2 separate regions of the Homo sapiens genome follow, and region 2 is linked to region 1. The links come from fine-mapping of genetic effects on gene expression. Tissue or cell type: gastroesophageal junction. Region 1 holds a variant in brackets; the other region holds the start of a gene. All regions are shown on one strand. Distances are between the middles of the regions. Region 1 holds the start of LOC112268062 (a long non-coding RNA gene). Region 2 holds the start of ZMIZ1-AS1 (ZMIZ1 antisense RNA 1).

Region 1 (5,362 bases):
GACCATTTCCTGCTGTGATATTAATACCACCGCTAATAATGACAGTAGCAGTCGAGGGAGGAGCAAGCATGCTAATATTAGCCACACCTGTTGAGGGCCCGGCACACGCCAGGCCCTTACATATGTGATGATGTCAGTCCTCGTGATGAGCTGCACTCAGCATCTCCACGTTGACTGCGAGGGACCGCTGGATCCCAGAGCCAGGACAGAACTCAAGGCTATTTTGGTTGGGAAGAAAAGAGGTGTTCAGCTGACCTCAAGTACGGGAGGGTTGAGTGAAACGAGCATCATTGTGGGAACCTGGGTGAATCAAAGCAGTGGGTTGCAGACAGAGCTGGGACTGCAGTGTGGAGCTCCAGGGAGCCAGAGGCACCCTGTGCATCTGCCACAAGTCCCTGAAGCTGCAGTCCTGGCATCATCCCCAGGTACCTCCGTCTCCGCTGCTTCTCTGCTTCTTCCTGTTGCACGCCGTCTCCTGCATTCATTTCTTCCTGTGTATCTGGCCTGGACCTCAGCCCCTGCTCCTTATAGACGTGGCTGCTCTGCGGCCCTAACTCCTCCCTGGCTTCCCTCCAGGCCTCCTTACAGGCCCTCTCCCTCGGCTGCCTGCCCAGTTCACCGTGCATAGCCCTGTTGCTCCCCTCAATCCCTGCCGATTCCCACACCACCGTTTGCCTCTGGATTGGTTGCCCACTAGTCAGGTCCCGCCCTTCATCCAATCAGCTGTGGTGGGCGGGACACTTCCTCCAGCCGTCCTCAAGCCTGGCCTCAGGACCCTGTCACATTCTGAAAAGTTGTTGACGACCCGAAAGAGCTTTGGTTTAGGCAAAATATTGTTAAATATCTCTGGATATTTACCACATTAAAAATTAAAACTGAGAAATTACAAAATATTTTTTAATTCTTTAAGAACAACAAGAATAAACACTACACATGAACGTATATTTTTCATAAAAAATAACTATTTTCCTAAAACAAAGAAAGTTGAGCAGAAGAGTGACATTCCTTTAGGTTTTTGTGAATCTCTCTGGTGATTCACTTCAGAGGAGGCAACTGGGTTCTCCTGTGTGCTTCTTTCTGCATTCGACTTCTTGAGAGCCGCGTGGTCTTGAATCCTCTAGAAAAATGCCACAGTATGCTTGCATCAGACAGCGTAAAAGGCAAATACTGCCTTCTAGCTTTGCAGGCTCTCGAAGAAAAGCAGTGACTCAGGTGGTGCCTGAAGCCCTGCAGGGCCTCTTGGGTGTGCGGTGATCTTCCTTACCCTGAGGAAGGCCAGAGGAACCCAGCAAACAGCCTAGCCTAGGCAGGGCACCGGGTTCCCAGAGCTCAGCCGTCCAGTGGTGGAACTTTGAGCTGGACTGGGGGCAGCCGGGGCTAAGAACAACTTCCTGGGGGACGCAGTAGGTAAATGAAGCCATGAAAAATGAGCATTTAGGGGAGGCAGAAGGGAAAGGAGAAGTTTTCCAGGCAGTAGAAAATGATTGGGCACATCTTCAAAGTGGGAAAGTGAGGCATCGAGCCAAGGCTGGCTGAGACCTTGACGCCCCAAGTACTGACAGGATCATGGTGGTGTCCAGTCCCACCCTGCGTAGCTCAACATCAAGTTTATTTTCCATAGTGACGCTAAGCTTCCTTGCAAGTTGAAGTTAAAATAGCCTCTTTCTAGGTTCTGGATTGCAATCTTGTGGGTAAATGCACAGATGCTGGACCGATCTCATTTTTTTGATGCCATGCTGCATTAGCACCCAAGGGATGGGCTCCCTCTGCCTCTCAGGTCATGTATGGGCACTAAGGGTGAATGATGAGTAGGGTGGGTGGGGATGGGGGCCCTGAAAAGAACCTGGCAGCACCCCTAGAGCACCTGTGATTCAGGGCACCCCGTGCCAAGGGAGCAGCCTGGCCCGGAGCTGCCCTCTCAGCGGGGAGGAAGTAGAAGCCTCAGCCCAGCCTGGAACCTCCAAATCTGGGCGGGGAGTGTGAACCACCTTCCCTGCAGCCTCCAGTCTTTCCGCTTCCTTGTGGGGTGTGGACTTTGGAGGCTGATGGAAGGGTGCTGAGGAGGGGATGACCTTCACCCAAACAGAGAACTAGAGGACATGGGCTTGGTCAAGAGTGGAGGTCTCAGGGTTACGTGATGGTCTGTGGAACCACTGACAGTGTAAACTCCAGCCCTGCCTCTTATCTGTGCCTCAGTTTTTTGCTTGTTTGTTTGTTTTTGAGACAGAGTCTTTCTCTGTTGCCCAGGCTGGAGTGCAGTAGTGCAATCTCA[A/G]CTCACTGTAACCTCCACCTCCCAGGTTCAAGTGATTCTCCCGCCTTGGCCCTCCGAGTAGCTGGGATTACAGGCATGCCCCACCATGCCTGGATAATTTTTGTATTTTTAGTAAAGATGGGGTTTCACTATGTTGGCCAGGCTGGTCTTGAACTCCTGACCTCAAGTGATCTGCCCACCTCGGCCTCCCAAAGTGCTGGGATTATAGGCGTGAGCCACCGCACCCTGCCGATGCCTCAGTTTTCTTATCTGTAAAGCAAGGATGATGGCACCCAACTCCTGTGGGTGACTGTAGTAAAGGCTAAATGAGATCATAGGAATCAGGCATTTCGTGCAAAGCATGGGGCCAGCTCCACGAGGCATGAGCTTTGTTTCATCTCTCCTGTGCAGTGCTATAGATCAGGTCCTGGTTCATAGGAATTGCTCAATCAAATATTTTGGAGAGAAAAGTTAATAAATAAACATATCAGTGGCTCAGGTAATGTCAGTTCCTTCTCTAGGCAAGACCTAATCCATCTACCTTGTTTTACAGATGGGAAGATAAGACCCAGAAAACAGAAAGGACATGTTTAAGGCCATGCAGCAAGTTAGTGCCTGACCTGAATATTGAAGTGAGGCCCTACTACCATCAGCCATGGGAACCATGGCTGGATGGGTCCCAAGCAATGAAGACCTTCTGGGTGTCTAGGGGAGAGGTTTGGGCCCTCCTCCATGTGCGTGTGTGTGTGCGCGTGCAAGTGTGTGTGTCTGGGAAGCCAGAAGATTACACTCTTCTTTCTAGGCCTTCTAGCCCTTGCTGGAAGGCCTGTAGTGAGTGGATGGCCTGCCTTACCCTCTGCACATCCCGCCCTGTTTATTGAGATTTCCATCCAGCCTGAACTCCTGTGGGGAGGTGTTATCTTCTGGACCAGAGCCCTATCTGCCATGAAGCCATTGTGGTGTCACAGGGGCTTCTGAGAGATCCCAGGCTGGAGACGGAAAGCAGAAGATTTGAAGTGGTGGGAGGCAGGGGCTGGTGTCATAACACACTTTCCACCCCTGGGCTGGGAGGGGCACTCCCTCCTGCTGAACTCTCCCAGGCCAGTGACCTCATCTTGCTCCTGTGCTTGTTTTCCAAAGGGTGTTGTAAGTTGACTGTCTGCTTTCTTCCACAACACTCAAAGTGTGGCCTGTGGAGCAACAGCTTCAGCCACAGCTGGGAGCTGGTTAGAAGTGCAACATCTCAGGCCCCACCCTAGAACATTAACATCTCTGGAGGTAGGACCCAGGAATCTGTTTCACAAGTCCTCTTCTGATGCTTAGAAAAGTTTAAACATCACTGCTTTACTCTATTTCTCGACAAAAAGATGACATTCAGTTTGGCTAGAATTAAAAGGGGTGGGTGTTTCCTGGCAGGTTTTAGAAACCTATTTAAATGGTTCCATTGTCCATTCATCCATCCATCAACCCATCCAACCATCCAGCCAGCCATCCACCCTCTTTTCATTCAACAGACATTCAGCTGCACTCGGGAGTTGAAAGGGGAAGGCTCGGGACCCTGGGCTCCTCCAGCTTGCCGTGAGACACCACTGTGTGGCAGAAGAGGTGGCCTCTGTCCCCTTTATCCTCCAAGTGTACCTGTGGTCTTCAGGCCGGTCACTTGCTTGAATCTGAGTGTGTGTCTCTGATCTATAATCCTAAAAAAGCTACCTAATGCAGGTGTCCAAGAGGGAAAGGGGAAGGAATTGCATGCACTTGGTGTCTATTGTGTGCCAGGTGTGTTCACACGTGTTATGACCTTCCACTCTTCCAGCTGCCCTTCATACTGGATAGCATTATTCTTATTTTACAGAGAAGAATATTGAGGATCAAAGAGACCAAGACTGCAAGCGTAAAAACTAAGATTGGAACCAAAGCCAGTTCTTCTTGATCCCAGGGTCTGCGCCCTTCTTCTGTTCCATGTTTCATTGTTCTTGGTGGACCTGGGGATCAATAGCTAGAAGTTAAAGGACAAACTGATTTGGGAAGTGCTTCCAGTGCTGTCTTGAGTGATGTCTAGAGATTAGCAGACTGGCTGTGAAGTGGTGAGCTGCCCATCACTGGAACCGTGCAAGCAGAGACTGGTCATGGTGATCACGGTGTTGGTCCTGTGTGAGTGTGATGTGGGGAAGAATTGAGACCAGATGACCTTTGAGGGCCTTCTGCTGTCTGAGGCGGGCCTGCTTGGGCCTGCTCCCAGGTCAGTGCCCCATGGATGGAGCCTCTGAAGCCAGCTGCTCATTATCTGTGGATCCTCTGCGGGGACACTGCCAGCTCCCAAACAGGAAACATGTCCAGAAATCTGTAATTAGAGCTGGGAGCCACAGGCCTGAGAGGTGCCTGCTGCAGCTTCAAGTGCAGACACGCCACCCTGGTTAAGTCCCTGGGAGAGAACCCAGTGAGTCAGGCCCTCAGATCTTCTCCCTGCCTGTGGCACCCCCGCCCCACCCCATTCCCCTTGGAAGGAAACCTGCTTTGGCCAGGAACCTACTGGGTGAATGGGTTTCATATACATTCTCTCCTCTGTTCTTCCCCAGAACCGTGGGAGAGAGGAAACATCTGCCATGATGCAGGCAAGGAATGCAAAGCTCCCAGACATCATGTGGCTCACTCAAGGTCACCCTACTATGGCCCTTGCCTTTCTGAGTGCCTGGTTTGACCTCTTGATCCCTCCAGGGGAGAACGTCACAGTCAAAGGAGGGGTGCAAGAGGCCAGTGGCACACAGAGAGGTCTGTGTGGGCCTGAGTGGCTCCTGGGTCTTCCCTGACTGACCATAACGCCTTTCAGCCTTTCTGAATCTGCCATGAAGGGACGGGTCCTTGCAGTGTTCCTCTGCCAGGCTGCCTGGCAACCCATGGCAATTGTGGTGGTGTTAAAACATGGCCACAGGCCAGGCACGGTGGCTCATGCCTGTAATTCCAGCACTTTGCATAGGGTATGGCAGAAGAGACCCTAAGTGAGTAAAGACCATGCCCCTGCAAATTATACTTTGTTTGCTGGAACACTCACTCTTGGAGCCCTGAGCCACCATGTAAAGAAGTAGGAAGATTCACTGTCCTGAAGCTGCCATG
Region 2 (5,362 bases), 47 kb before region 1:
CCCCCAACCTCCGCCCCGGCTGGCCTCCCACTCCCCCGGGGCCACCGCCGCCGGAGACGGAGAGGAAGAAAGAACACGGGGAAATTACTTTCGTATTTGCAACGCGCGCGCGCACACACACGCACATCTTCCCCCTGGGCTCCCCTCCTGGCCGGGGCAGCCCCGTCCAGGCACTGGCCTGAGCGCCCCTCTGGCTTGCGAAGCCCTGGGAGAAAACCCTGCACACACACCTCCGCGTTTCTCGTTTGTACCGCGCGCCAGCTTTCCCCGGGCAATTCCCACACAAACAACTTAACCGCGCCCCCACCTCCCATTTACAAAAGTGTATGTTTTCCCTGGAAATTCAGACGCACAAGTTAACACCACCACCCCTTGCCATCCTGAAATCCAGCGCTTTCCCCAGCGGTTCCTGTACACACACAGGCGCACAACTTCGCATCTCCCCAGAGGAGGCGAAGGAGACCGAGGCGGTCCTTCCCTCCCTCCTCCGATTCCCGGTCCTGCCCGGCCCCCGGGTGTAGGGAGCGAGGGCTGGAGGCGCGCCGGCAGGAGGCGGGCACCGGGTCCGCGCGCGCACGACCACACTTACGCCCCGCACACCCTGACAAACCCGGCCCCCACGCGCAGCCCAAGCCGGCTCCGCGCAGCCGGGAGCTCGCCGGCCGCCGGGCCTCGGCCCCCGGCCGCCAAGGAGAGCGGAGCGGAGCCCGCGCCGCCGGCCGGTCGCCCCGCTCCGGGGGACACTTTAAGGGAAAAACCCCAGCACCCAATCCCCACGCTTGCACCCCGAGAGTCCCCGGGGAGCGGGAGGTAGCCCCGGAGCCAGCGGGCGCCTGGCTCTGGCCCCAAACTTACCGGGCGCTGCGAGCGCCGCTGCCGCCGCTGGAGGACGCGCCGCCGCCACCGCCGGGTAGGGCAGGCTCGGGCCGGGAGGAGCGCAGCGAGGGCGCCGAGATCCGCTCGGCTCCGGCTCCTGCTCCGCGCCGGCTGGGGCTGGGGTCACCGCGCTGCGCCGGCGTTGCTCGCTCGCTCGGCCGCCCGATCGCTGCTCGCCCGCCTGCCGCCCGGCCGCCCGCTCTCCCCGGCGCCCGCCGCCGCCGCTCGCTTTTTTAATGTCCACAGACAGTGAAAAGGAACTCGGCGTTAGGGGGTGAGTAAGTGAATCAACTCGCCCGGAGCCGAGCAAGTTGAAGTGTCAGATTACATTGGCTATTCTATTTCCAAAGGGCCCCGCGCCGCCGGCCGCCCGCAAAAGCCGGTGCGGAGTCAGGCCGGAGTGGAGCGCCGCGCCGCGCCGCCGCCGCTGCCGGCGCTCGGCTTGGCTCGCGCTCTGCGCTCTCTTTCCCCTTTCCTTTTCGCCTCTCCTCGTTCTCTCCCTCGCCTTTCCTTTCCTTTCTCTTCCTCTCTTCCTCGCTCCTCGGTCTCGGCGCTCTCCCAGCTTTTCTTCTCCTGGCTCCTGGTTCCCCGCTACGCCACCAGTCCACTCACCTCTCTCCTTGCCCTACTCCCTCCGCTACTCCCTGACGCCCCCTGCAGCCCCCAGCCCCCCTGCAGGCCCCAGCCCCAGTAAGTTTGGAGAGGGGAACAAATGCTGAGCCTAGGTAGGGACCACCTTGGGGAGGAAGCCAAAATCACACTGCTCACCCGAGAGCCCCTGCCCCGCGCTGGCACGCCCCCGCCTGGAGTGCACTCGTGGCCCCGGGCGCTGTCAGGTACCCGAATTGGGGTAAGCGAGTTGGTAACTGGACCTCCAAAGCCTTCCCCTGGGGTTGACTTTGGAATTGTTCCTACAGCCCGGGGACTGGTGGTTGGGGTGGGAAGAGGACCACCACCACCAAGGGTGACTTTGAGGGAGACTAGAGCGCGGCCCCCCGACAGCTGTGGGGGAGCGGGGGTGTGGTGGCCACAGTTGATCCGCGGCACCTAGCACAGTCCAGAGACGCGTGGATTCCCCTAGGCCCGGCGCGGAGCGCCCGGGGCGCTGTGCGCGCGGGCTGCGTGGGAGCTGCTAGGCTGGGGCCTGGCCCTCTGCCCCGGACTGGGCACTGCCAGAGATAGCGGAGAGCTAAGGTACTCACGAGGCGCAGTTGGGTGCACCCACTCGCGGGAGTTCCCCTAGCCGACCCACCCCCCCCCCCCGAGAGCATCCAACTACGCGCCCACTTTGGCTCACGTCCACTGCCACTCTCACGGAAACTCCTACAAGAACGGCACACACGTTCGCTCCCTCAGCATTGCAAACACGCTCCCCCCCAAACCACAAACGCGCCCCCACACACTCGCTTACTTTCCCTCACAAAGATGCCCGCTTACACGGCCACAGCAGGCACGCTCAGAGACACGCAGTTACACACACACATCGCTGTACACAACCCCACATACAATCAAAAAACAAAACACGAAACGTTCCCCTGGGCACTAAATCCTCACGTTAACGTACACACACAAACACACGCCCTCCTCTCCCACTTCCTCTTCCATACCCCTTCCTCGAGGCCCCCCACCCCTGATTTTCGGCACCCCCAGTCCCAATCATAATTGGCGCCCGCGCAGCCCTCTTTGGACACACACGCGCCGCCCACGCACGCGCTCCCCTCCCCGGCAGGCGGGGGCGGCTTCGGCCGGGAGCCGGCGGAGCCCGCTTCGGATTCCAGGTGTGGCAGTGACTCCGCGCTCCACGTTTTGCAGGCTGCCACCGTGTCGGAGGCGAGGCGAGGAAGGGAGCTGGAATAACAAAGGCAAGTTGGGGAGAGCGCAAGGGGGCGCAGCCCCGGCCGGGCTGCGGGGGGAGCCTTGCACGGCCGGGGCTTCGGAGGCTGCAGGGTCGGGGGCGCGGGGAGCCGGAGGTGGGGGAGGAAGGGTGGGGGGAGAGGGGCGGGGCTGAGGCGTGACGTCAGAGAACAATGACACCGCCGGGGGGCGGGCACCCGGAGGCGGCCCAGGCGGGGGTCTCCCCCGGGGCCTGGGGCGGGCCGAAGATGTCCAGGCCTGGCCGGAGCCGCCTCCTGATTGACGAGGCCCGCATGGGAGTGCGGACGTGCAGCACAGATTTGCGGGTCTCCTGGGCCTCTTGGGCGGTGATCAGCGCGGACCTTGGGCCAACCGGGGAAGCAGGCCGGAGCACTACCCCCCACCCCCATTTTAGAACATCCTTCTGAGGGCTTCGCTGACCTCGGCTTGAACTCCTTCAGAGCCGGAGAGATCACTCCTTCCACCACCGAGGGAGAGGAGGCAAAATGAATTTGCCAGCTTTGAATTCATTCTCAAGGCTCCGCTAGTCTCACAGCCAGTGAACTCAGTCTGGAATTCCTGAAAGCTCAGAAAACTGCTGCTTAGGTCCACCCGGGCGTGGGGGACGGGGTGTGTGGGGGCGCAGGCGGCGGAGTGGGGGCGTTATTTTATTTTCCCCAGGGGAAATTCTGCCTCCCTATGCCATTGGGTGCAAGAAAAGGCACTCCTTTGGGGCCTCAGTCTTCCTACCTGTCACATGGACATGGACTGTGATGACTGCTGCTCTTCCACCCCCGCCCTCCCTGTAGGTGGCAGCTGAGCATCCCTGGAGAGGGTGGGTGGTATGAAAGCACTTCCAGACCTCTAGGGACACCAGGGAGTCATGGTCCCAGCACATTGCTGTGTGATTGAGCCCCTCCTCAGCCTGTGGGTGGCCTAAGTTCACAGGTAGGTACACCAGGGCCACCTGAGAAACCTCCGAAGGTAGGAATTAAGCTTGCAGAACGGTGGCTGCAGCCACAGCTGTCCCACTCCCAGCAATCCACAGCATTGCAGCAGTGGCAGCAGCCACCCCATACCCAGGTCCAAAATCCCAAAAGAGAGTTTCTGGGTATTTAAGGATTTGGGATGTGATAATCCAGCCCAGCCCACAATTAGACCAGTTCTTGTTGCCTTAATGACCAGCTAGGTCTGGACGCCCAGCCCTCTCAACCTTTCTGTCCAGATTCCTCAATAAGTATCCAGGGCCTGCCCACTTCCAGGAATTGGGGGATGCAGGTGACCTCGGAGGTGACCACTCATGTTCAAAGTCTCCTGTCCAGAAGCTCCACCCCCTACCCCACATCCCAGCCCCCTACTCTCCCACCAGTATTTACATCTGAAACCCAGGAAGTGGCTGCAGAGGGCAGAGGAGCCAAGTAGGCTCAACTTAGTAGCATGGAACCAGGGATCATTTCAACCCTCCCCTTCTGTGCAAGCATGGCAGCAAGTCAGAAAGCCCACCAGGGTCCTGGGTCTTCCCTAGGCTCCAGTCCTTGGGTCTCTGAGGCCCTTGCTCTCTTTGTTCATCTTCCAGGGAGGTAATGGGGTAGATTGGATACCTCTGGGGTCTTGGAAGAAGCTATGACTTATTTACTGTCTACTATGTGGTGAGTACTGTGGTGGGTCCTCCTAGGTATTGAGAATTCAGTTCCCTGATTGAACTGTCACATTGTCTTAAGTTAGGTGCCGCTACCATCCCCCTTTCAGAGGAAACTCAACTGTGAATGACTTGCCCAAGATTGGTCAGGATGGGAACTCGGGCCCCCATGAACAGAGTTTCCTGTTGTCCCCTCAGCCCTGGCTCTGTTCATCCATAGACTGTGTAGCCCCAAGCAAGCTGCTTTCCCCCTCTGAGCCCCTGTAAGGTCCATGGTGCCATCAGGACTCACTGGGAACTGTGTGTCCAACAACCTCACCCCCAAAGTCTCAGCCTCACTGGGCCTGGAGATCTGCTGGTGAGACAAGAGAGGACAGTGCCATCACTTCCTCGTGGCCCAGAGCTGGAAGATGCATCCTGCTCAGCCCCTGCAGGCCCAGAAGTCACCTGGCTCCACTAGGAGGGCATGGGCAGTGTGGGGCCGCCAGGTTGTACCAACCTTCAGAGCACACTCAAGTGCTGTTAATTTCCCTGTCCTGTGGGAGCCACCAGCAGATTGGGGAGAGGACCATTGCTGGGGCCTGGGCCCAGGTTTCAGGAGGCAGAAAATCTGGAGGCCAGCAGGATGGTGGGGGTGGGAGGCTTGAGGTCCCTGAGGGAAGCAAAGGACTTGTGTAGGGTGCGGCGAGTATGGCCTCCTAGGCTGGGCTGGGATGGGGGCGGGTACACAGTGGGGATTCCCACCTGTCCAGGAGCTGCCTTCTCTGTCCCCACTCTCCACCTCTCACTTCTGGAACTTAAGGGAGCCAGGGAACATCTAAAATTGAGACTAGAGAGGTGGGAAGAAAATCTCATTCATTGAGTACTTACTGTATGCCACGCACTTTGGAAACATTCGTTGTATTCTCTCCACAAGCCAGGTGTCATTCCCTGCTAAGGGAAGAGGCTCAGAGAGGTTAAGTGACCTGCTCAAGATCTCATAGCTGGCTGAGC

Evidence for each region.
Region 2: it holds the start of ZMIZ1-AS1, and the variant in region 1 is fine-mapped to the expression of ZMIZ1-AS1 in gastroesophageal junction (GTEx, PIP 0.91).

The regions. Positions count from the first base shown.
Region 1 is chr10:79,018,082-79,023,443 of GRCh38, reverse strand. All of the region lies in intron 5 of ZMIZ1-AS1 (ZMIZ1 antisense RNA 1), which reads left to right. LOC112268062 (a long non-coding RNA gene) reads left to right here and starts at 2,487. Exons shown (of 2, transcript XR_007062214.1): 1 at 2,487-3,529; 2 at 4,104-5,362. RefSeq lists an enhancer at 1-63 and a cis regulatory region at 1-253. The variant A/G (reference allele first, on the strand shown) is at 2,273.
Region 2 is chr10:79,064,764-79,070,125 of GRCh38, reverse strand. ZMIZ1-AS1 (ZMIZ1 antisense RNA 1) reads left to right here and starts at 2,678. Exons shown (of 10, transcript NR_024431.2): 1 at 2,678-2,738; 2 at 3,540-3,678; 3 at 4,307-4,379. It overlaps ZMIZ1 (zinc finger MIZ-type containing 1), which reads right to left and starts at 1,160. Exons shown (of 25, transcript NM_020338.4): 1 at 856-1,160. RefSeq lists enhancers at 150-199, 1,401-2,246, silencers at 400-1,379, 1,640-1,709, 2,510-2,719, 2,820-2,869, 2,910-3,119 and a cis regulatory region at 842-1,527.